Homo sapiens: one gene and its partners. The protein of the gene in region 2 purifies or fractionates together with the protein of the main gene of each other region. This does not show direct contact. Each region holds a gene or a part of one and is shown on either strand. Other genes may lie near its edges. The genes, in order: PRP4K, FAM76B, CCNT1, NSRP1, DDX42, FIZ1 and PPIL4.

What was found.
Region 1: the proteins of FAM76B (region 2) and PRP4K purify together in Homo sapiens (affinity purification with mass spectrometry, with the first as the bait; one large-scale study listed by BioGRID). This does not show direct contact.
Region 3: the proteins of FAM76B (region 2) and CCNT1 purify together in Homo sapiens (affinity purification with mass spectrometry; one large-scale study listed by BioGRID and IntAct). This does not show direct contact.
Region 4: the proteins of FAM76B (region 2) and NSRP1 purify together in Homo sapiens (affinity purification with mass spectrometry, with the first as the bait; one large-scale study listed by BioGRID). This does not show direct contact.
Region 5: the proteins of FAM76B (region 2) and DDX42 purify together in Homo sapiens (affinity purification with mass spectrometry, with the first as the bait; one large-scale study listed by BioGRID). This does not show direct contact.
Region 6: the proteins of FAM76B (region 2) and FIZ1 purify together in Homo sapiens (affinity purification with mass spectrometry, with the first as the bait; one large-scale study listed by BioGRID). This does not show direct contact.
Region 7: the proteins of FAM76B (region 2) and PPIL4 purify together in Homo sapiens (affinity purification with mass spectrometry, with the first as the bait; one large-scale study listed by BioGRID). This does not show direct contact.

Annotation. Positions count from the first base shown.
Region 1 is NC_000006.12:4,034,800-4,038,299, forward strand, and holds part of PRP4K (serine/threonine-protein kinase PRP4 homolog), read left to right. Parts: intron 1-2,597; coding exon 2,598-2,771; intron 2,772-3,500. UniProt on the Homo sapiens protein: Serine/threonine kinase involved in spliceosomal assembly as well as mitosis and signaling regulation. Connects chromatin mediated regulation of transcription and pre-mRNA splicing.
Region 2 is NC_000011.10:95,770,618-95,772,782, reverse strand, and holds part of FAM76B (protein FAM76B), read left to right. Parts: intron 1-1,132; coding exon 1,133-1,222; 3' UTR 1,223-2,165. UniProt on the Homo sapiens protein: Negatively regulates the NF-kappa-B-mediated inflammatory pathway by preventing the translocation of HNRNPA2B1 from the nucleus to the cytoplasm.
Region 3 is NC_000012.12:48,706,708-48,710,207, reverse strand, and holds part of CCNT1 (cyclin-T1), read left to right. Parts: intron 1-3,500. UniProt on the Homo sapiens protein: Regulatory subunit of the cyclin-dependent kinase pair (CDK9/cyclin-T1) complex, also called positive transcription elongation factor B (P-TEFb), which facilitates the transition from abortive to productive elongation by phosphorylating the CTD (C-terminal domain) of the large subunit of RNA polymerase II (RNA Pol II).
Region 4 is NC_000017.11:30,179,316-30,182,815, reverse strand, and holds part of NSRP1 (nuclear speckle splicing regulatory protein 1), read right to left. Parts: intron 1,909-3,500; coding exon 1,800-1,908; intron 1-1,799. UniProt on the Homo sapiens protein: RNA-binding protein that mediates pre-mRNA alternative splicing regulation.
Region 5 is NC_000017.11:63,812,170-63,815,669, forward strand, and holds part of DDX42 (ATP-dependent RNA helicase DDX42), read left to right. Parts: coding exon 1-39; intron 40-1,058; coding exon 1,059-1,285; intron 1,286-3,393; coding exon 3,394-3,500. UniProt on the Homo sapiens protein: ATP-dependent RNA helicase that binds to partially double-stranded RNAs (dsRNAs) in order to unwind RNA secondary structures. Unwinding is promoted in the presence of single-strand binding proteins.
Region 6 is NC_000019.10:55,593,697-55,596,517, reverse strand, and holds part of FIZ1 (flt3-interacting zinc finger protein 1), read left to right. Parts: exon of another isoform or gene 1-622; coding exon of another isoform or gene 623-898; intron 899-2,821. UniProt on the Homo sapiens protein: May be a transcriptional repressor of NRL function in photoreceptors. Does not repress CRX-mediated transactivation.
Region 7 is NC_000006.12:149,529,044-149,532,543, reverse strand, and holds part of PPIL4 (peptidyl-prolyl cis-trans isomerase-like 4), read left to right. Parts: intron 1-3,500. UniProt on the Homo sapiens protein: PPIases accelerate the folding of proteins. It catalyzes the cis-trans isomerization of proline imidic peptide bonds in oligopeptides.

The DNA of each region.
Region 1 (3,500 bases), on a different chromosome or scaffold from region 2:
CCTCCTGGGTTCAAGCGATTCTCCTGCCTCAGCCTCCCAAGTAGCTGGGATTACAGACACGCACCACCATGCCCAGCTAATTTTTGTATTTTTAGTAGAGACAGGGTTTCACCATGTTGGCCAGGCTGGTCTTGAACTTCTGACCTCGTGATCCGCCCACCTCGGCCTCCCAAAGTGTTGGGATTACAGGCCTGAGCCACTGTTTATTTTCATTGCATTTTAGCAGACAACACTCTGTTCTTTTTATACTAGTTTACTTTATCCCATCCATTTATATATACATATATATACACATATATGTGTGTTGTTTTTGTTTTGTTTTGTTTTGTTTTTTTGAGATGGAGTCTCGCTCTGTCGCCCAGGCTGGAGTGCAGTGGTGTGATCTTGGCTCACTGCAACCTCTGCCTCCTGGGTTCAAGCAATTCTCCTGCCTCAGCTTCCCCGAGTAGCTGGGACTACAGGTGTGCGCCACCACGCCCGGCTAATTTTTTTTTTTTTTTTTTTTTTTTTTTTTTTTTGATATTTTTAGCAGAGATGAGGTTTCCCCACGTTGGCCAGGCTGGTCTCGAACTCTTGACCTCAGGTTATCTGCCTGCCTTGGCCTCCCAAAGTGTTGGGATTACAGGCGTGAGCCACCGCACCCAGCCCATTTATATTTTTTAACTGGTCTTTTGAGGCTGTGCGTGTATGTGAGCAGATTAAATAAAAGAGTTTCCTCAGATGGCCCTATCAAGAAGTAAGCACTACCAAGAAGTAAGCACTACAGATCTGAATCAAAGTCTACCTTGCTCATTTTGGCTGGATCAGAGAAGGATTCTTGGGTTCTGTATACCGTGCTGAAACATGCAAGGCAGGTTGTGTTTTTAGGTTTTTATTAAATGAGGAAGGCAAGTTGCAGTGGCTCACGCCTGTGTTCCAGCACTTTGGGGAGGCTGAGACGGGTGGATCACCTGAGGTCAGGAGTTCGAGACTAGCTTGACCGACATGGAGAAATCCTGTCTCTACTAAAAATATAAAATTAGCTGGACGTGGTTGCTCATGCCTGTAATCCCAGCTACTCAAGGCTGAGGCGGGAGAATCTCTTGAAGCCGGGAGACAGAGGTTGCAGTGAGCCGAGGTCACACCATTGCACTACAGCCTGTGCAACAAGAGCAAAACTCCATCTCAAAAAATAATAATAATAATAAATGAGGAAAATACTGTAATATTATTTGATTATGGAGACAAACCTATTTACAATCTGACTGTTCAGATTGAATAGTTGTGACCAAACCTGGAATAACATTAAGAAATGTTCAAAACCTGTTTTAAAAAATTAAGCTGTAGAAAGGCCTGTTGTAATACAAATATCACATTAAACAAGAGTAAAACTCACTGAAAGGTACTTGTGTGATAAGTGTTGAAAAGTTGGGTTTTTGTGGGGTTTTTCTGGGGAGACTGGAGGCAGGGTCACACTCTGTCACCCAGGCTGGAGTGCAGTGGCATGATCTCTGCTCACTGCAACCTCTGCCTCCCAGGCTTACACAATCCTCCCACTTGAGCCTCCCTATTAGTTGGGACTATAGGCACATGCCACCACACTTGGCTAATTTTGATATTTTTTGTAGAGATAGGGTTTCGCCATGTTACCCAGGCTGGTCTCAAACTCATGAGCTTAAGTGATCCATCTGCCTCAGCTTCCCACAGTGCTGGGATTACAAGTGTGAGCCACCACACCTAGCTATTGTTTTTGTTTTTTTGAGACAAGTTCTCACTCTGTCACTTGGGCTGCAGTGGCACAAACACAGCCACTGCAGCCTCAACCTCATGGGCTCAGGCGGTCCTCCCTCAGCCTCTGAAAGTGCTGGGATTGCAAGTGTAAACCATTGTGCCTGGCCTATTATACTTGACATTAAAAAGAAGATTTTTGCCCGGGCATGGTGGGTCACACCTGTAACCTCAGCACTTTTGGAGGCCAAGGGAGAACCACTTGAGGCCAGGAGTTCGAGACCAGCCTGGGCAACATAGTGAGACCCCCATCACTACAAAACAAAATATTAGTCAGGTGTGGTGGCATGCCCTTATGGTTCCAGCTGCTCAGGGGGGCTGAAGTGGAAGGATTGCCTCAGCCTGGGAGGTCAAGGCTGCAGTGACCCGTGTTTGCGCCACTGCACTCCAGCCTGGGTGACAGAGTTAGACCCTGTCTCAAAAAAAAAAAAAAAAAAAAAAGATCCTTAATTGGAGAAATGTCAGGATGTAGAAAGAAAAAGTCGTCAATGAAAATGGAATATTTGAGTAAATGGAGTATTATACTCACTTGGGGAGGTTTTATTTGAGTTGGTTTATTTGAAATTAGAATCAGTGACTTTACCGGTATGAATAACCTTTAGTAATTTTTCAAACTGTGGGACCAGAGGAAATAAGACCTTTCATTGTTTGCCTGCAATAACACCAAAATATCACTGTAGTCACCTGAGTAAGTTTTGTTACAAAACACATTAATCAAAGTTCACTTTCTTTAGGCTAATGTGCCTTTTCTTACAGATGTTCTTTGCATATAGAAAAAAATCATTTACTTTGATTTATATTTCTTTTAACTTGCATTTGATCCCCTTAAGAACACGACCTCGAGATGATATCCTCAGTAGACGTGAAAGATCAAAAGATGCCAGCCCCATCAATAGATGGTCTCCAACCCGAAGAAGAAGTAGATCTCCCATTAGAAGGAGGTCTCGTTCCCCACTCAGACGTAGCAGGTCTCCAAGAAGAAGAAGCAGATCTCCTCGGAGAAGGTAAAGACATTTCATCCTTGTGATTCATTAAACTCTGAATGTTTTTGAACCACCAGTGAGCTCACTTGGTAGGTTTTCTTTTAGACCAGTTTTCTCTGAAAAATCGTAGTTGTGTTCCCATAGTTTCCTTTTACCAGCAATCTCTACACATGGGTTTTCTTTTATATCGTTTCCTTTGAATTTTAAACAAATCATTGCTCATTTAGGATGCAATAAAATTAGTCTTTTAAAAATAGGACTTTTTTCTCTCTTTTATCAATCAATACTAAATGAGCCAGACTTAGGGATTTTTTTTTTTTTTTAACCAGCAAGGTAGATCATGTAGTAGTAAATATATAGCCCAGTTTCTTACATTTTATATTAATTTTGCATATTGATAGTTACTGTAGACTTAGGCAAAGGCCTATTTAATTTGCCATAGAAACCATTTTATCTGAAGCATATGTAGTCAGTAATAGGTTAAAAAGGTGGTTTATAAAGCAGGGAATCATTTTTTAAAATTCATACATACATGAAATATTTTAATATAAAACATAAATGGGTATTTGTTTGCCAATCTTTTAACATTTTTAATTGAAGTAATAAATGAATATAATTTTTAAGAAACAAAGGCTTATATTATAGCCATCTTTACATATCTCTCAGAATTTTTGTATGCTGTATTCCTAGAAATGGAAATGCATGGTCTGAGTGCACTCTGGTCAATGAGGGGTTTTATTTTATTTTATT
Region 2 (2,165 bases):
GGTTATTTCATGAAACCACTTTAAGATGGCATACAGAGAAGGCAGAGTGTTATCTGCCCGTAAAAAGCTAAAATTAGAATAAAATATGAAGTACTGAGATTAAAAAAGTCTGTCTATATAATAAAAATTCCTGGAACCTGTGAAGGAAAATGGTGTTGAAACATAAGTCAGAGGATATCTTTTTAAAATGTGTTAATTTTAGGGCAGTGCTCTATTTTCATCACTTTCCCCATTTTGGCTCAAACTACAAAAATGCTTGATCATTAATGTATTTGTATATATAGGGATCCTTACTATCTAAGTTTTCATATTTAAGAGACTGAATAAGGTGACAAAGGCAGTCAAAATGTGAAAATATTCACTGTACTTACACATTCCTCTTCACTAAACTAGTGATGGATGGACATTTAATAATGAAATTCAAGTCAGATGATGAAATGAAATTTTGAATCTTTGTAAAAATTCAAGCTTTCATGAGATAGGAAATGATGATGTGGAACTGCTCAAACCACACTAAAATCAGTGTCAGATGACTGGTAACTAAAGGAACAACAAGATAATGAGTGGTTCTGATGGGTGCTTTAAAAAAAATTGAATATCATTGGGTGCATTTGGCAAAGTAACAAATTCTGAGTTGTTTTTGCAAAAATGACCTCTTATGCTTGTTCTACAAGAGAGTAAACATAGAAAAAAGACCTTATACAGCTTGCCAGGAAATACTCCTCCCAAATCTTGATTCATTCTTTGATTTTATTAATTGTAAATTACAACTTATTTTCATAGTTTTCATGTTTTTAAGATGAAGGGCCAAACACCTTTTCCCTATTAAAATTTGGACCTTCTTTTAAGTGGATTCACTTTGTTTCCTTTTTTGTAACCAATTGTGCATCTTTGGACACAATTATATTAATAATGACATATACAAAGGGGGCTGATGAGCCAATCTAGAATTTTCCTTCTGCATGTTCATCCTTAAAGAGATGAATGTAAAGGTATCAACTCTTTCATTTAATGTTAGTGCTTTAGTGAAACATTTATATAAATGAAAACAGTATTAAATAAGTAGTATTCTTCAGCATGACTTAATAATATTTCAAACATTTTTAATCTTGAATGTTTTTGTCTCCCACAGGCCAAAAACAGAGAACTACTCAAACAGGTCGCAGCATTATCAAAGGGTAAAAAATTTGACAAAAGTGGAAGCATACTAACATCTCCTTGAGAAAGTCATTTGTTTAGCATTTCTTCTTACAATGTAAATTTGGGGAAAAAAAATTCTGTGAAGCCCTTAAATTCTGTGTAGTAGAAAAATATTTTTGCACACCAAATGAATTGGTGTGTTTCCTGTTCACTTTTGTAATTGATATACAGCATTTTTTAAGTTGTAAAACATTCAAATAAAACTTCAACTGGTTTGAAGTAACTTTTTAATTATTTGATATCCAGGAACTTTTTTGCCAGCAATAGTATTAAACAGTTGTAAAGGAGTGCATGAGTAGTGCTCTTTATGAAACGCAACATGCAATAATAGAGTAGGTATGGTTTCAGAAGTCAGAGCAGCAGGGTTTTTTTGTTTTGTTTTTGTTTTACACTATGCTAATTTCAGACAAACAGTTTTCAATTTAGAAATACAAAAACTTTTAAACTCGAAAAATGGCGAACACTGGTTTTTTGGGAATTGTGTTTTTACTTTGCATCAAGATGAATTTAGGAGAAAATCACGGTGCTTTTATTAAATGAACTTCAGATATATGTAAATTTGTTTTTTAAAGTTACATCATTAACATTAGTAACCTAGCATTTTCATTATTGGTATAGGAATTAATGTTTATTGTACAGTATCTAAGGTAAAATGTGTTTCTGTTTTGTAAAAACTACTGTAGATTTTTACTTACAAGTGCCTTTTTGCCACCTAATGTTTTTATTTATAGGAATGCTGATCTTTTGTACATACATTTTGTTTTAAAATCATGTTTAATAAATGTTTGTATATAAATGCATATGTACAGAAGCCTATTTCAAAAGGAAATCAAAGTTGCTAGTAAAATGTTTGAGATTACATTTAGAACTAACTGATAATGCATATAGATTGTAGAAAATTTTGTGATTTGTTTCTGTGTGATAAGGGAAGCTGTTGGTCTTTGAATTCATTTAATTATGTCAAA
Region 3 (3,500 bases), on a different chromosome or scaffold from region 2:
TTACAAAGGTATTAGAGGCTGGGCGTGTTGACTCAGGCCTGTAATCCTAGCACTTTGGGAGGCCGAGTTGGGTGGATCATTTGAGGTCAGGAGTTCGAAAACATCCTGGCCAACATGGTGAAACCCCGTCTCTATTAAAAACACAAAAATCAGCCGGGCATGGTGGCGTGCACCTGTAGTCCCAGCTACTCACTTGGGAGGCTGAGGCAGAATTGCTTGAACCCGGGAGGTGGAGGTTGCAGTGAGCTGAGATCGTGCCGTTGCACTCCAGCTTGGGTGACAGAGTGAGACTCCATCTCAAAAAAAAAAAAATGAAGAAACCCAAAGATATTATAATAAATTCCCATGGTAAAAATTAAGACAGTACAGAAATGTATGTGGAAAGTGAAAACTACTCTGTAATCCCACCCAGAGATAACCATTGATAAATGTTTGGTTTATAGTGACCCAGACATTTTTCTGTGCACATAAACTAGCATTGAGGTATTTTTATTTAAAAAATCATATCTTGCTATGCTACTGTTGCACAGCTTGCCTTTATCATGTAACAGTATGTATTGGACATCTTTCCATACTTCCCTTTATTATTTTTTGGATTTCTTATTATTTTAATTTGCCACATGGTATTTGTGTAGTTACTGTAGTTTATTTAACCAGCTTTTTATTGATAGCTATTTGGGTTGTTGTTCTAGTTTATTATATTGTACATTATGTTTCATGGGATAGTCTTGTACATATATAGTGCACTTATATAAGCATTTTAATACAAGTTCCTATAGGTGGAATTGCTGTGCCCAGAGTATACAATGTATAAAAATTTTTGTAGTGTCAGTTTGCCCTACTGAAAGATTATACATTGTTTCCAGCACTGTAGGTGAGGGTCCTTTTCTTTCCACCCTAACAAACAACAAATATTAATTACCTCAAGAAACATTTATCTAGTTCTTTGTTTTTGAAACGGAGTCCCCTCTGTTGCCCAGGAGTGCAGTGGTGCCATAATTTAGTTTAGTTTTATTTTGGTTTTATTAGTTTATGCCATACTTTTAGTTTCTAATAGGCTTAAAACCTTAGTCTTTGACTTGTCCTTTTCCCCTTTGTTCAGTTAGTTATAGTCCCCCCCAACCCCAAGATAGGTTTTTACTCTGTCACCTAGGCTAGGCTGGAGTGCAGTGGTACAATCATAGCTCACTGCAGCCTCCATGTCCTGGGCTCAAGTGATCCTTCCACCTTACCAAGACTACAGTGCCACCACGCCCAGTGAATTTTCCTTTTGATTTTTTGTAGAGATGAGGTCTTGCTATGTTGCTCAGGCTTGAGCTCAAGGGATCCTCCTGCCTTGGCCTCCCAAAGTGCTAGGATTATAGGCAAGAGTCTGCACCCAGCCTATAAAGTCTTGCTAATTTTATAATGTTACCATTTTTTCCCTCTCCTTATAAATATGTACTTTTTAAATTATCAAAAAATTGGAAGAGGACGGACAGGAAATAAAGAGATAATCCTGTTAACATTTTAGAGTATATCCCATTAGAATTTTTTCTTTGTATGCAAGTACATGTACATATATTTAGTGCAGCCCTATTAGTTTTACAAAGTGATGCCTGTGTTTCTTTTTTCCTTTATTTCTACTGCTAGTGTCTAAACTTTTTTTTTTTTCTTTTTTTGAGACAGAGTCTCGCTCTGTGGCCCAGGTTGGAGTGCAATGGCGTGATCTTGGCTCACTGCAACCCCCACCTCCTGGGTTCAAGCGATTCTCCTGCCTCAGCCTCCCAAGTAGCTGGGACCAAAGGCGTGTGCCACCACTCCTGGCTAATTTTTGTATTTTTAGTAGATATGGAGTTTTACCACGTTGTCCAGGCTGTTCTTGAACTCCTGACCTCAGGTGATCTGCCTGCCTTGGCCTCCCAAAGTGCTGGGATTACAGGCGTGAGCCACCACGCCCGGCCTACTCTAAACTTTTTAAAATTCTTTTTTCTATATTTTAAAATAATTTTTAAAAAACAGAGACAGGGTCTCATTGTGTTACGCAGGCTGATCTTGAACTTTGGGCTCAAGTGATTCTCCTGCTTTGGCCTCCCAAAGTGCTCTAAACTTTATGTCCTAATGCCTAAATTATTATTTAAGTTAACTTTTATTTTATTTTTTGAGACAGTATGGCTCTGTTGCCCAGGCTGGAGTACAGTGGCATGATCTTGGCTCACTTCAACCCCTGCCTTCTGGGTTCAGGCAATTCTCCCGAGTAGGTGGGACTACCCTACTACAAGACTCCTGAGTGGTGGTGTGTGCCACCACGCCCGGCTAATTTTTGTGTTTTTAGTAGAGACGGGGTTTCACCATGTTGGCCGGGCTGGTCTTGAATTCCTGACTTCAAGTGATCCGCTACCTCGGCCTCCCAAAGTGCTGGGATTACAGGCGTGAGCCACAACACCCAGCCTGAATTAACTTTTAATGTATCCCATCCTTTTCTCCTAGTTTTACCTACCATCAGATTACTCCTTCTAAATATTACTTTGTTTTAAAAATTTATTTTTATTAATTATCATGGGTACATAATAGTTATATACATTTATCATAAACATTTCTTAAACGATATTTTTCAAAATCTTTAGTGTCACTCTTGTTAAGAATCTTGGCTGGGTGAGGTGACTCACACCTGTAATCCTAGGACTTTGGGAGGCAGAGACAGAATTACTTGAGCCCAGGAGTTTGAGCAGCCTGGACAATGTAGGGAGACCCCATCTCTATTAAAAATAAAAATAAATTAACTGGGTGTGGTGGCGTGTGCCTGTGATCCCAGCTACTTCGAAGGCTGAGATGGGAATATCTCCTGAGCCCAGGAGGTTGAGTGGAACTGTGATTTTGACGCCACTGCACTGCAGCTGGGTGACAGAGTGAGATGCTGTCTCAAAAAAAAAAAAAAAAGAAAGAAAAAAAATCTAGTGTTCCACATCCGATTATCTAATGTATTTAACTACTCAGTTTAGTATTGAAAATGTGCTTTACGCCTAGATCACCATACCTTTGTTCATATCCATTTTTCTCTGATCCTGTTTTGTTTATCCTAAAGTCTGAGGAATATATATGTAGTATGCTTCATATTCATCTGAAACAAATGTGAAGGAAAAGAATCACTGTGTTTACTTAAAACAGTTTTTTCCGTATGTGTATGGAGATGGAGTCTCTCTCACTATGTTGCCCAGGCTGGTCTCGGACTCCTGGGCTCAAGTGATCCCCCGCCTCTGCTTCCCAAAGTGCTGAGATTATAGGCTTGAACCACTGTGTCTGGCCTAAAAAAATTTTGTTTTAAATTATTTTTGTCTCCTATGGTCTTGTCTGAAATCAATACTATGAGTTGAATTTGTGGAGAAAAACTTACTCTAGAAAAGTATAGCATAGGTGACATCAGGGTTACAAATAAGTATTAGAATATCAGTTCTAGTCAGTAAAATGAAATATATATTTAAATTCTGTAAAATTATTTATGTATTTCTTTGACTCCTGGT
Region 4 (3,500 bases), on a different chromosome or scaffold from region 2:
ACAACAGGCGCCCGCCACCACGCCTGGCTAATTTTTTGTATTTTTAGTAGAGACGGGATTTCACCGTGCTGGCCAGGATGGTCTCAATCTCCTGACCTCGCAATCCGCCCGCCTTGGCCTCCCAAAGTGCTGGGATTATAGGCATGAGCCACCGTGCCCAGCCATTTTATTTTTTGAGATGGAGTCTGGCTCTGTCGCCAGGTTGGAGTGCAGTGGCGCTATCTCAGCTCACTGCAATCTCCGCCTCCCGAGTTTAAGCAATTCTCCTGCCTCAACCTCCCCAGGAGGTGGGATTACAGGCATGTGCCACAATGCCGAGCTAATTTTTGTATTTTTAGTAGAGACAGGGTTTCACCATGTTGGCCAGGATGGTCTCCATCTCCTGATCTCATGATCCACCTGCCTCAGCCTCCCAAAGTGCTGGGATAACAGGCGTGAGTCACTGCGCCCAACCTACTTTATTTACTTTAAATTAATTTAAGTAGCTACACGTGACTAGTGCCTACATACTAACAGTGCAGTTCTAGCCCCGATATGTAAGTCTTACATTTTAGGAAGGCTGGGTTCTATTTATGAAAACAAACCACTTTCCTTTTTATACACTATCTGAACATGTATATAAGACTTATATTGTAGACACCTAATTCTTTCCAACTTTCTCCTTAATTCTGACAGCAAAATCATTTTAAGGTACCAGGCACCAATCATTTTAAGGATCATGAGGAATACCCACATTCTTATTTAAAAAAAAAAAAAAAAAAAAAAAAGCAGCCAGGTGCAGTGGCTCATACCTGTAATCCCAGCACTTTGGGAGGCTGAGATAGAGGGGGGATCCCTCAAACCCAGGAGTTCAAGACCAGCCTGGGCAACATAAAGCCCCATCTCCACAACAAAAATACAAAAAGAGGCTGGGCGTGGTGGCTCATGCATATAATCCCAGTACTTTGGGAGGCCGAGGCGGGTGGATCACCTGAGGTCAGGAATTCGAGACTAGTCTGGCCAACATGGTGAAACTCCATCTCTACTAAAAATACAAAGATTAGCCGGGCGTAGTGCATGCACCTATAGTCCCAGCTACTCAGGAAGCTGAGGCACGAGAATCCCTTGAACTTGAGAGGCAGAGGTTGCAGTAAGCAGAGATCGCGCCATTGCACTCCAGCCTGGGTGACAGAGCAAGACTCCATTCCATCTAAAAAAAAAAAAAACAAAAAAAAAAAACCACACACACAACAACAACAACAAAAAACACAAAAAGAAAATTCGCTGGGCATGATGGCTTGCACCTGTAGTCCCAGCTACTTGGGAGGATCATTTGAGCCCATGAGGCAAAGGCTGCAGTGAGCTATGATTGAACCACTGTACTCCATCCACCCTAGGCGACAGAGTGAGACTCTGCCTCAAAAAAAAAAAAAAAAAAGAAAAAAGAAAAAACTACAATTTGATTTTGCTTTCCCTTGAAGATTTTGCTCTCCCTTGTTAAGACCCATAAATCACTTAAAAATTCAGAAACTTTATACATTAAAAGTCTGTCTTTGGTTTTACAATAATATTAAACTCAATCACTGTTTTAATGTAACAATTTCTGTGAAATGCAGAATAAAAATGATCTTAAACTAAATCTGTAGGTTTTAAAATCAAGAAACTGCAAATTTCTAGCCATTCATTCAGTTAGGTAAGGCTGGCTGACAACACAATATGCAATGTTGTAATCTTCCATCTTTCAGAGGGTTAAAATGACCCCACAACCACAGATTATTAACAGTATTTTTCTTCAAAATATTTCATACACGTCTCCTCACCTGGCTTCACGAAAGCTGCATTTAGGTACTTCCTCTTCACCAACTGCTTGATTTAATAGGTGCCTATAAAATCCACTGAGATCTTTCTGCTTGGTTACATCCAAACATGCTAACAGAGGGAAAGCAAAAATTAGAATATATTCAATAAGGCACAGTGCAGTTTCATTTTACAGACATACAGTATATAACATACAGTGTGTAAACTACTCGCTGGATCAGGAGTTGGCAAACTGCAGGCCAAATCTGGCCTGTTGCCTGTTTTCATAAATAAATTTTTATTGAAACAAAGCCCTGTTCATTTATGTATTGTCCACAACTGCTTTTGTACTACAAAGGCAGAGCTCAGTAACTGCGACAGAGATCATATACACAAAAAGCCCTAAAGTATGAATATGATCTGGCATTCAAAATATGAATTTATAAATTTAAAGTCTTAAAATATGAATACTAAAATACTATCTGGTCCTTTACAGAAAGTTTGCCGACTGGCACTCTAAACACATAGTACATGCTTAGACAGAATGTTATAGACTTGGTTTTCTTCTACTTAAAAGCTGAAGAGGATGGGCGCAGTGGCTCACGCCTGTAATCCTACAACTTTGGGAGGCTGAGGTGGGTGGATCACCTGAGCTCAGGAGTTCGAGACCAACCTGGCCAACATGGTAAAACTCCGTCTCTATAAAAATATAAAAATTATCCAGGTGTGGTGGTGCATGCCTGTAATCCCAGCTACTTGGGAGCCTGAGGCATAAGAATCACTTGAACTTGGGAGGCAGAGGTTGCAGTGAGCCAAGATCATACGACTGCACTCCAGCCTGGGCGACACAGCGAGACTCTGTCCAAAAAGCTGATGAGCATTTGTCAATTAAAGTATTTACAGGGCTGGTCATGGTGGCTCACACCTGTAATGCCAACACTTTGGGAGGCTGAGGCAGGAAGATTGCTTGAGCCCAGGAGTTCGAGACCAGCCCCGGCAACATAGTGAGACCCCGTCTCTACAAAAAATACAAAAAGTAACCAGACGTGGTGGTATGTTCCCGTAGTCCCAGCTACTCAAGAGGCTGAGGTGGGAGGATCACTGGAGCCTGGGAGGTCAGGGCTGCAGTGAGCCATGGTTGAGCCACTGCACTCCAGCCTGGGTGACAGAGACCCAGTCTCAAAAAAAAAAGTATTTTATAAATACATATTCTACTTAGATCTTGAGAAATAATCATGAGTAGAAAGCACTAAGGTAAAGCATTAAGATATTCTTAATTCATCCAATTTTTATTCTTTCTTCAATTAATGTTATTCTTTTTCTAATTGCCTCATTGATCCTCCTTGAGTGGTGTTACTCTATTATTTTCTCATCCCAAAAAAATGTAACTAGGGTTTAAAATTATATTTATATTGTTTCTGACAAATGCCATGGCGTTATACTTTGTAATAAATGTTTTTACATTTCAGATCATGTTCTAAGGCAAAAGCCACAAAATGAGAACTAAGAGAAAAGTCTAGTAGAAATAATAGTTACTGAAGAGTTCAACTGTGTTTTTAGTTAAACTTTCCTTTCTGTTTTATACTGCTATATAATACCATATTCCTTGTGTCTTGAATTCCTATATATAAATTATGATCACAAACTCATAACCCTAAAGTTCAGTGACAGAGCAAACAGCTAACCACAGGGGAGAGATTCTGCTACTGTTTCCTTGTGCCTTT
Region 5 (3,500 bases), on a different chromosome or scaffold from region 2:
AAAAGGACATCCCAGTCCTGGTGGCCACAGATGTTGCAGGTAGAGTATGAATTTTTCAACAACATTAAGTTCCTAGGCTATAAGGGTACTCTGTCTTACTACATAAGACCTATAATATCTGAGCAGGCTGATGGAAAGACTGTTGGCCTGGCTGGCCATCCCCTCCCAAACCCCCAAGGAAGCAGCAGTTCAGCACAGGGATCACAGTCTGGAGCTCTAGATACCACTTTTCACTTAGTATTTCTCTCTAATCAAAGAATCCCTGCAGCTAGAAGTCACTCTGGGAAAAAAGGCAGTGAATGCCCTTATTGTATGTCTGAATATAGTAGATACCTTACCCTTACATTGATCTACTATACACAGCTTAGTTGGGCAACTTAACTCAGGATGAGAACAGTTTTTGGAATATAATTTCTGGATTTGTTCTGTCAAGTTTTAATAACTACCCTTAAACACTGATATTTTTTCCTAGAAAGGAGAGAACTTCTCAGCTTCATGACACATTTTAAATATATATTCCCAGTGCAAGAGAAGAGGGCATGGCAGATTACTGATGCAAAAGATAAAAGTCCCAGTCGGGCACGGTGGCTCACACCTGTAATCCCAGCATTTTGGGAGGTGGAGGCGGGCGGATCACCTGAGGTCAGGAGATCGAGACCATCCTGGCCAACATAGTGAAACCCCGTCTCTACTAAAAATACAAAAATTAGCTGGGTGTGGTGGCGCGTGCCTATAATCCCAGCTACTTGGAAAGCTGAGGCAGGAGAATTGCTTGAACCAGGGAGTCGGAGGTTGCAGTGAGCCGAGATCATGGCACTGCACTCCCGTCTGGCAACAGAGCAAGACTCCGTCTCTAAAAAATAAAAGTCCCTTACACTAGAAGGCCTAACATCATAGAATCTGTGGTGGTGACTTAACATGCCTGTATCTCAGCTCACCAAACCCATGCGCTTTGCCTAGATAAAGGAAATGTGGCTTATTAGCACTAGCATTTCTGGTTACTTTGATCTTCTGACTACAGATGAAGAATAAAAGAATTTGGTTGCTTTTTATTTCAGCCCGTGGTCTGGACATTCCTTCAATTAAGACTGTCATTAACTATGATGTGGCACGAGACATTGATACCCACACGCATAGGATTGGCCGCACAGGAAGAGCGGGTGAGAAAGGTGTGGCCTATACCCTACTCACTCCCAAGGACAGCAATTTTGCTGGTGACCTGGTCCGGAACTTGGAAGGAGCCAATCAACACGTTTCTAAGGAACTCCTAGATCTGGCAATGCAGGTGAGGGGCTGGGCACACTTTCAATTGCTCCTGGTTATAAGACCAAGACATTTTAGCAGTCCTGGAACAGATAACATAAAAACTTGACAAGAAAGTTGGGTGGCTAGGAGGATGTGGGGCTTATGAGGTACAGATAGGAATTGTGAGATACTAAAATTCATCTAGTCTTATCTGGTCTTCTTCTTTCAACAGCATCTGTTTTGAAAAGCTATTCCTTTGTGCTAAAATCTGTCGCTGTAATTTCTACCCCATAGCACACTTAGGAGTAAATTTAATCTCAAAGATGGTTACTATTCTCCTTACTGCTCTTCCCCCACAAAATTTTTCTTCTGGGAGGCTAAAAATGTGTGATGCCTTTAAAACAATATGTGTATAGTATAGTGCCCCCCCACCTTTTTTTTTTGAGACAGAATCTCACTCTATCGCCCAGGCTGCAGTGCAATGGCACGATCTCGGCTCACTGCAACCTCTGCCTCCTGGGTTCAAGCAATTCTCCTGCCTTAGCCTCCCAAGCAGTTGTGATTACAGGCGCCCACCACCACGCCTGGCCAATTTTTGTAATTTTAGTAGAGATGGGGTTTTGCCATGTTGGTCGGGCTGGTCTCGAACTCCTGACCTCAGGTGATCCGCCCGCCTCGGCCTCAACCTCCCAAAGTGCTAGGATTACAGGCGTGAGCCACCGTGCCCAGCCTGTATGGTGCCTCTTAACTGTTCCTTGCAGAGATCTCAGACCTCTGACCACACTGATTGCCCTCTTCCAGGTGTGCTCCAATCTAAAGCTAAGTGAGGCATTCTAACAAATCAAACCTGGAGTCATCTGAATCCATGCTGTCCCCAAATTACAAATGGGTTCGGAACACTTTCTGAGAGCAGAAACTGTTAAGAGTTTGTCAAATGCCTAGGCCAGCTCACACAACTGGTACAACCCAGCTGCAATGTGGCAGTGCCCAAGTTTCTGGTCCTAGGAGTAAAGGACCTGCACTGCAGGAGAGAAGAGAATAATGTTTCCTCCCCTGCTCCTGAGCACAGAGAGCTAGTCCTAAATAAACTTTTAAAACAGGACACATTTTGACTTTGGCATTTTCTTCCATTTCTTTTTGTACCTCAGGCTTTCTGTGCTCAGGACTTTGTCCAAGCCTGCTGCCCTACCTCTCAAGCACTTTATTTTGCTGGTAATATGTGATTGTCAGATAAAACTTTAACCTTCCCAGAGACATTTGCTTTTTTTTTTTTTTTTTTTTTTTCTTTTTTCTGAGATGGAGTCACACTCTATCACCCAGGCTGGAGTGCAGTGGCGCAGTCTCAGCTCACTGCAACCTCTGCGTCTCCGGTTCAAACAGTTCTCCTGCCTCAGCCTCCCAAGCAGCTGGGATTAGAGGCATGTGCCACCATGCCTGGCTAATTTTTGTATTTTTAGTAGGGACGGGGTTTCACCATGTTGGTCAGGCTGGTCTTGACTCCTGGCCTCAAGTGATCCGCCCACCTCGGCCTCCAGAGTGCTGGGATTCATAGGCGTGAGCCACCGCCCTGCATTCTTAAGAGAATGTGAGTAAATATGTTGAGTGGCAATGGTCAAGTTCAATGAAAACTTTTACGCTCTGCGGGTAAATAAAATTTTCAGTTGTGTGGCTACCATCCTTTCTGGGAGTCTGTCCCTATAGTCAGTTCTGATAAGCCTCACTTCACATAGCATTTTTCCTTTGCTTCTGAACATACCAGTTGTTTAAGTTCCAAATGTTTACGTCCAATAATACATGGTTTGAGAAATAAAATATAAGCTCATTTTCCTCAAGGAAGTTAGAAGTAGCCAAAGTTACTCCTCTGGGTTTGAAGCTTACCTGAACAACTTCCCTTCCAGGAGAGCCTTGAGGGAGGGAGCACTGTAGGAAGCCTTAGATAAGGATCTCAGCCACTTTTCAAATTTGGTGGATTATGCTACCAAAGAGAAACCAATCTGTGGTTCCTGTGAAAATTCCTCCCTTAGCGTAGTGCTGGCTGAAAATTAAGCAAAAGTTCCCCCTTCCCACTTAATTTCCTCTTTGTCCTCGTTCTCTTCTTCTGTTCTTTTCTCCCTCCCTTGACTTAACCTTGAATTTTGTTCAATGCAGAATGCCTGGTTTCGGAAATCTCGATTCAAAGGAGGGAAAGGAAAAAAGCTGAACATTGGTGGAGGAGGCCTAGGCTACAGGGAGCGGCCTGGCCTGGGCTCTGAGAA
Region 6 (2,821 bases), on a different chromosome or scaffold from region 2:
AAGGCCCTGAGGAAGGAAGGAGTGTGCTGTGTTCCAGGAAGCGATGGGAGACTGTGGGGTTGGGGTGGAAGGAGGTAAGGTGAAAGATGGGACGGGCTAGGTCACACTCTGTCTATGTGCCAGACACTTGCACAACCAGGGTGAAGAAAACCAGGCATCTACCGATGGTCTTTCACACTTGGCTGTCCTCTCTGTCCCCATGCATCTGCCTTGGTTCAGGACTTCACATCCTGAATGTTGGCCCCGGCTTTCTCAGTGGTCTCCCTCCTTCCTGTCTCTCTCCCTCACATCCAGTCTCTGCATCTATCACAGAGTGACCAGGTGACCCCTGCTTAAATCCCTTGATCCTTAGGATGAAAGGGGAGCTCCTTAGCTTGATGCAACAATTGACAGTCCCCTGAGGGGCCTCACCCCCACCCACCAGTAGGTTGTGATTCAACTGAACCATTTCAGGAGCACCTACTGTATTTAGATACAGTGCTAGGCTCTCTGGGGGAAAAAAAATAGCTAAGGGAACAAAACAGATACAGTCCACCCTTTGTATGGCCTCGAGTCAAATGTGGGAGATGTGAACTGAACAACTAGGTTAATCAATGTTAGGCTGCAGCCGAGACATCTGAGGATGGAGGATAACCATATTCTGAGGCTAATGCAAGAGAGAGCTGAAGCAGTCTGGATCGGGGATGGGGTCAGGGATGGTTTTCCCGAGAAAAAGGTGAGGAATGATCTGCCTCTGGGGTCCGAGGCTTTCCGGATCCAGGGAACAAAATGTGTACTTTCAAGGAAGCAAAGCAGGCTTTGGAGGAACTGGAGGAAGGCCAATGTGACTGGAGCATGGAGAAGCAGAAAGTGTGGCTCAGGAGAAGTCTGGAGAGTGCCGGACCCTGGAAATACAGCTGTGAGCAAAACCAATGTGGTCACTATTTTTATCGTCCTTAGCTGGTGGGGAGACAGACAACACTCAAGTTATATGTAGACACTAAGTGTGCTATGAGCCATAGGCTTTAAAGAAGGAGGGTGGAAGAGGATCACTGATGAGCCAGGGGGCCAGATTCCGGGAAGGGTTTCCAAGGAGCTGACAGATAAATAGACCTACGGGCATTCCAGGCAGTGAGAACAGCATGTACAAGGGCCCTGGGACCAGCATAATCTTGTTGTGTTAAAAGAGTAGAGAGAGAATAAATTTAGTGACAAAGAGGATAGAGATCCCTACACCCACACTGTACAGCAGGTGCATCGAGTCTGGAGCCAGAAAGGCAAATGAACATCACTCCCTGTTCCTTCTTCAGATCTGTGCCCCTGGCAGACATTACTAATCAAGCACTGCACTCTTTCTCATCCAGCCTCACCCTTCTCCTCACAGGCCTCCAGGAAGACATTACCATACTCACAAATCTCTCTCTGTTATTCCAAAATCTTAAATCAACAAGGACAAATATCAATACAAAAAACCTCTCTAAGGCACGGTTTTACACAGTCTACAAGCCTGGCAATGCCTCAGAAAAAAATACAGATTCCTGGACTCCCTCCTGGGAGATTCGATTCCCTAGACTTGGAAGTGATTCCCTGGATCTGTATGTGTGAAAAGCGTTCAGTGGGAGAAACTCTGAGCAGTAGCCGGATTCGGTTCAAAATCACTTCTCTGCCCTAACACACCTAAGGCCTGTATTCAGCTCATGATAACTGGCTCGGGATAGCAGGGCTTGACAAGGGAGAAGACACACCCTGCTAGGGCTGGCTGCTGTGTCACTTTAGAGCTGCACTGTCCAGTATAGCCATTAGCCACCGATAGTGATTTCTTTTTTTTTTTTTTTTTTTTTTGAGACAGAGTCTCGCTCTGTCGCCCAGACTGGAGTGCAGTGGCGCGATCTCGGCTCACTGCAAGCTCCGCCTCCCGGGTTCATGCCATTCTCCCGCCTCAGCCTCCTGAGTAGCTGGGACTACAGGCGCCCGCCACCACGCCCGGCTAATTTTTTGAATTTTTAGTAGAGACGGGGTTTCACCGTGTTAGCCAGGATGGTCTCGATCTCCTGACCTCATGATCCGCCCGCCTCGGCCTCCCAAAGTGCTAGGATTACAGGCGTGAGCCACCGCACCCGGGCTTTTTTTTTTTTTTTTTGAGACAGAGTCTCGCTCTGTCACCCAGGCTAGAGTGCAGTGGCACGTCTTTGGCTCACTGCATCCTCCACCTCCCGGGTTCAAGTGATTCTTCTACCTCAGCCTCCTGAGTGGCTGGGACTACAGGTCCCTGGGACTACCCGCCACCAGGCCCGGGTAATTTTTGTATTTTTAGTAAAGGCAGGGTTTCACCATGTTGATCAGGTTGGTCTCGAACTCTTGACCTCAAATGATCCACCCACTTCAGCCTCCCAAAGTGCTGGGATTACACACGTGAGCCACCGCACCCAGTCGTGTTTTTTTGTTTTTTTTGAGACACAGTCTCACCCTGTCATGCAGGCTGTAATGTGGTGGCATGGTCACGGCTTACTGCAGCCTCAAACTTCTTGGCTCAGCCTCCCAGGTAGCTGGGACCACAGGAGTGTGCCGTGTCCAGCTAGTTTTTAAAATTATTTGTAGAGACAAGGTTTCCCTGTGTTGCCTGGGCTGGTCTCAAACACCTAGGCTTATGCAATCCCAGAGTGCTGGGATTACAGGCGTGAGCCACCATGGCCAGCCAGGACATGGCCTTTTTAAGGACCGAAAGAATCTACCGTGACCCCAAACAGAGAGTGATAGGACGAGCGTTTCCCTAGATCATGGCCCTGTAGGTGTGACAGAGAGCTTGTGCCACAACCCTCTGGGAGTCCAGGAATCCGTTGTC
Region 7 (3,500 bases), on a different chromosome or scaffold from region 2:
AAATTAAAAAAATTAATTGAAAATACACATTTTAATGAGCACACTGTGTATCTCAGAGTATTGACTCTGAACACCCAACACCAAGACAAATTCTAAGAGAATTACTACACTTGAAAGATATGTTGAACAATTGGGCAGAAAGAATAAGTTACTTATAAGGGAATGAATTTAGATTGTTATCAGACTTTTCCACAGCAACACTTTGGAAGTTTATGCCAGAAGAAAATAGATTAACATACTTTTTAAAACTTTTTGTTTTCAGATAATTTCAAATTTATGGGAAAAAGTACATAGAACTTCTATATACCTTTTACCCACATTCACCAATTTTTAACATTTTGCTACATCTGTTTTATGATTCTCTCTTTTTCTCTCTCTCTGATTATACAAGCACATAAACACACATTTTTTTTCTCGACTATTTGACAGTAAGTTGCCTGTTATTTCCCTTTACCTCTTAATCAGTGTGTATTTCCTAAGAGCAGCAGTATTCAATGTGTATAACAATATGTACGTATTCACAGTGTAGTTACCAAAATCAGAAAATTTAGAAGTGACAGAAATTACAGTTTATAGGGCCGGGCACAGTGGCTCACGCCTGTAATCCCAGCACTTTGGGAGGCCGAGGCGGGTGGATCACGAGGTCAGGAGTTCGAGACCAGCCTGGCCAACATGGTGAAACTCCGTCTCTACTAAAAATACAAAAATTAGCTGGGTATAGAGGCATGCGGCTGTAATCCTAGATACTCAGGAGGCTGAGGCAGGAGAATCGCTTGAACCCAGCAGGCGAAAGTTGCTGTGAGCCGAGATCGCGCCATTGCACTCCGGCCTGGGCAACAGGGCGAGACTCCGTCTCAAAAAAAAGAAAAAAGAAATTACAGTTTATATTCCAATTTTGCCAGTTGTTCTAATAATATCTTTTATAATTGTTTCCTCCTCCAGACTAGAATCCAGCTCGTGACTTATCATCTGTTGCATTTATTTTGTAGAATATTTTCCTTTTTTTTTTTTTGAGACGGAGTTTCTGTTGCCCAGGTTGAAGTGCAATGGCATGATCTCGGCTCACTGCAACCTCCACCTCCCAGGTTCAAGCGATTCAGCTGCCTCAGCTTCCCAAATAGCTGGGATTATAGGTGCCTGCCACCCACGCCTGGCTAATTTTTTTTTTTTTTTTTTTTTTGAGACAGAATCTCGCTCTGTTATCAGGCTGGAGTGCAATGGCACGATCTTGGCTCACTGCAACCTCTGCCTCCCGGGTTCAAGCGATTCTTCTGCCTCAGGCTCCCGAGTAGCTGGGATTACAGGCGCCTGCCACCACATCCAGCTAATTTTTTGTAATTGTAGTAGAGACAGGGTTTCACTGTGTTGCCCAGGCTGGTCTCCAACTCCCGACCTCAGGCGATCCTCCTGCCTTGGCCTCCCAAAGTGCTGGGATTACAGGCATGAGCCACCGTGCCCGGCCAATAGAATATTTTTCAATTTAGGTTTATCTACTCTTTCCTCATGATTAGATTCAGGTTATGCACCCACAGCCGAAATAGTACGTGAGTGATGTTGTGTCCTCAGAGGTCACATCTGGAGGTGTACGATATTCATTGGAAGATGAGTAATTTTGGTCACTTGGTCATGGTAGTCCACTGCCTGGTGTCTCCAATAGACAATCTGTGGCTAGACACTTGGAGATCTTTCAAATGTCTTGTTCCTTGTCAAATTTCCCCCATAAATTTCTCAGCCATTCATGATTCCTGACTGCACCAGTTTTGACTCTGCTAAGTGCAAAGTGGTAATTATGCAAAGTGGTAATTTCCCACCCCCACCACTTTTTCCACAATTACCAACCTGCATTCTACTGTAAGGAAGAGCCCTCCCTTCTTTTTTTTTTTCCGAGATGGAGTCTCGCTCTGTCACCCAGGCTGGAGAGCAATGGCGCAATCTTGGCTCACTGCAACCTCTGCCTCCCAGGTTTAAGCGATTCTCCTGCCTCAGCCTCCTGGGTAGCAGGGATTATAGGTGCCCGCCACCACGCCCAGCTAATTTTTGTATTTTTAGTAGAGACAGGGTTTCACCATGTTGGTCAGGCTTGTCTCAAACTCCTGACCTGGTGATCTGCCTGCCTCGGCCTCCCAAAGTGCTGGGATTACAGGTGTGAGCCACTGTGCCCGCCTGAGCCCTCCCTTCTTAACTGCTTATCTATCCGTTCATTATCCGTGTCTCATGGATTCTTTTTTTGGCTTTGTTTTTAATAGACAATTTGTAGAGCAATTTTAGAATTACAGAAAAACTGAACATAAAGTACAGAGAGTTTCTAAGTACTCCCTCCCTCTTTCCCCCAGTCTTGCATTATTGTGACACATTTGTTAACAATTGATGAGCCAATATTGATACATTATTAATTAAAATCCATGATTTACGTTAGAATTCAAGCTTTGTGTTGTACATTCGGTGGAACTGACAAATGTACGATAGCATATATCTACCCTTACAGGATCATTCAAGGTAGTTTCACTGTCTAAAAAATCCCCTGGGCTCCACCTGTTCATCCCCACCCCCAACACCCACTTCTTGGCAACTACTGATGTTTTTACTGTCTATATAGTTTTGGCATTTTCAAAATGTCATATAGTTGGAATTATAGCGTATGTAGCCTTTTCAGACTGTCTTCTTTCACTTAGCAATATACATTTAAGGTTCCACTGTGCCTTTTTTCTTTCTTCCCTTTCCCTTTCTCCTTTCCCTTTTTCTTTTTCTTTCTTTTCTTTCCCTCCTTTTTTTTTTTTTTTTGAGACGGAGTCTCGCTCTTGTCGTCAGGCTAGAGTACAGTGGCATTATCTCGGCTCACTGCAACCTCTGCCTCCCAGGTTCAAGAGATTCTCCTGCCTCAGCCTCCTGAGTAGCTGGGACTACAGGCACGTGCCACCGCGCCCGGCTAATTATTTTGTATTTTTAGTAGAGACGAGGTTTCACCGTGTTAGCCAGGATGGTCTTGATCTCTTGACCTCGTGATCTGCGCGCCTCAGCCTCCCAAAGTGCTGGGATTACAGCATGAGTCACCCTGCCCGGCCCTTTTTTTAATTTTTTTTAATTTTTTTTTATTTGAGACAGGTTCTCGCTCTGTTGCATGGACAGTGGCACAATAATGGCTCACTGCACCCCGACCTCCAGGGCTCAAGTAATCCTCCTACCTCAGCCTCACAAGTAGCTGGGACCACAGGCGTGTGCCACCATGCCCGGCTAATTTTATTTTTTGTAGAGACAGAGTCTCACTATGTTGCCCGGCCTGGGATTTCATTTCTTTCTTTTTTTTGTTTTTTTTTTTTAGAGAAAGTCTCACTCTTTCACTCAGGCTGGAGTGCAGTGGTGCTGTCATAGCTCACTATAACCTTGAACTGAGGTTGAGCAGTCTTCCTGCCTCAGCCTCTTGAGTAGCTGGGACTATAGGCACACGCCACCACACCTTGGTAATTTTTAAATTTTTTTGTAGAGATGGAGTCTTACCCATG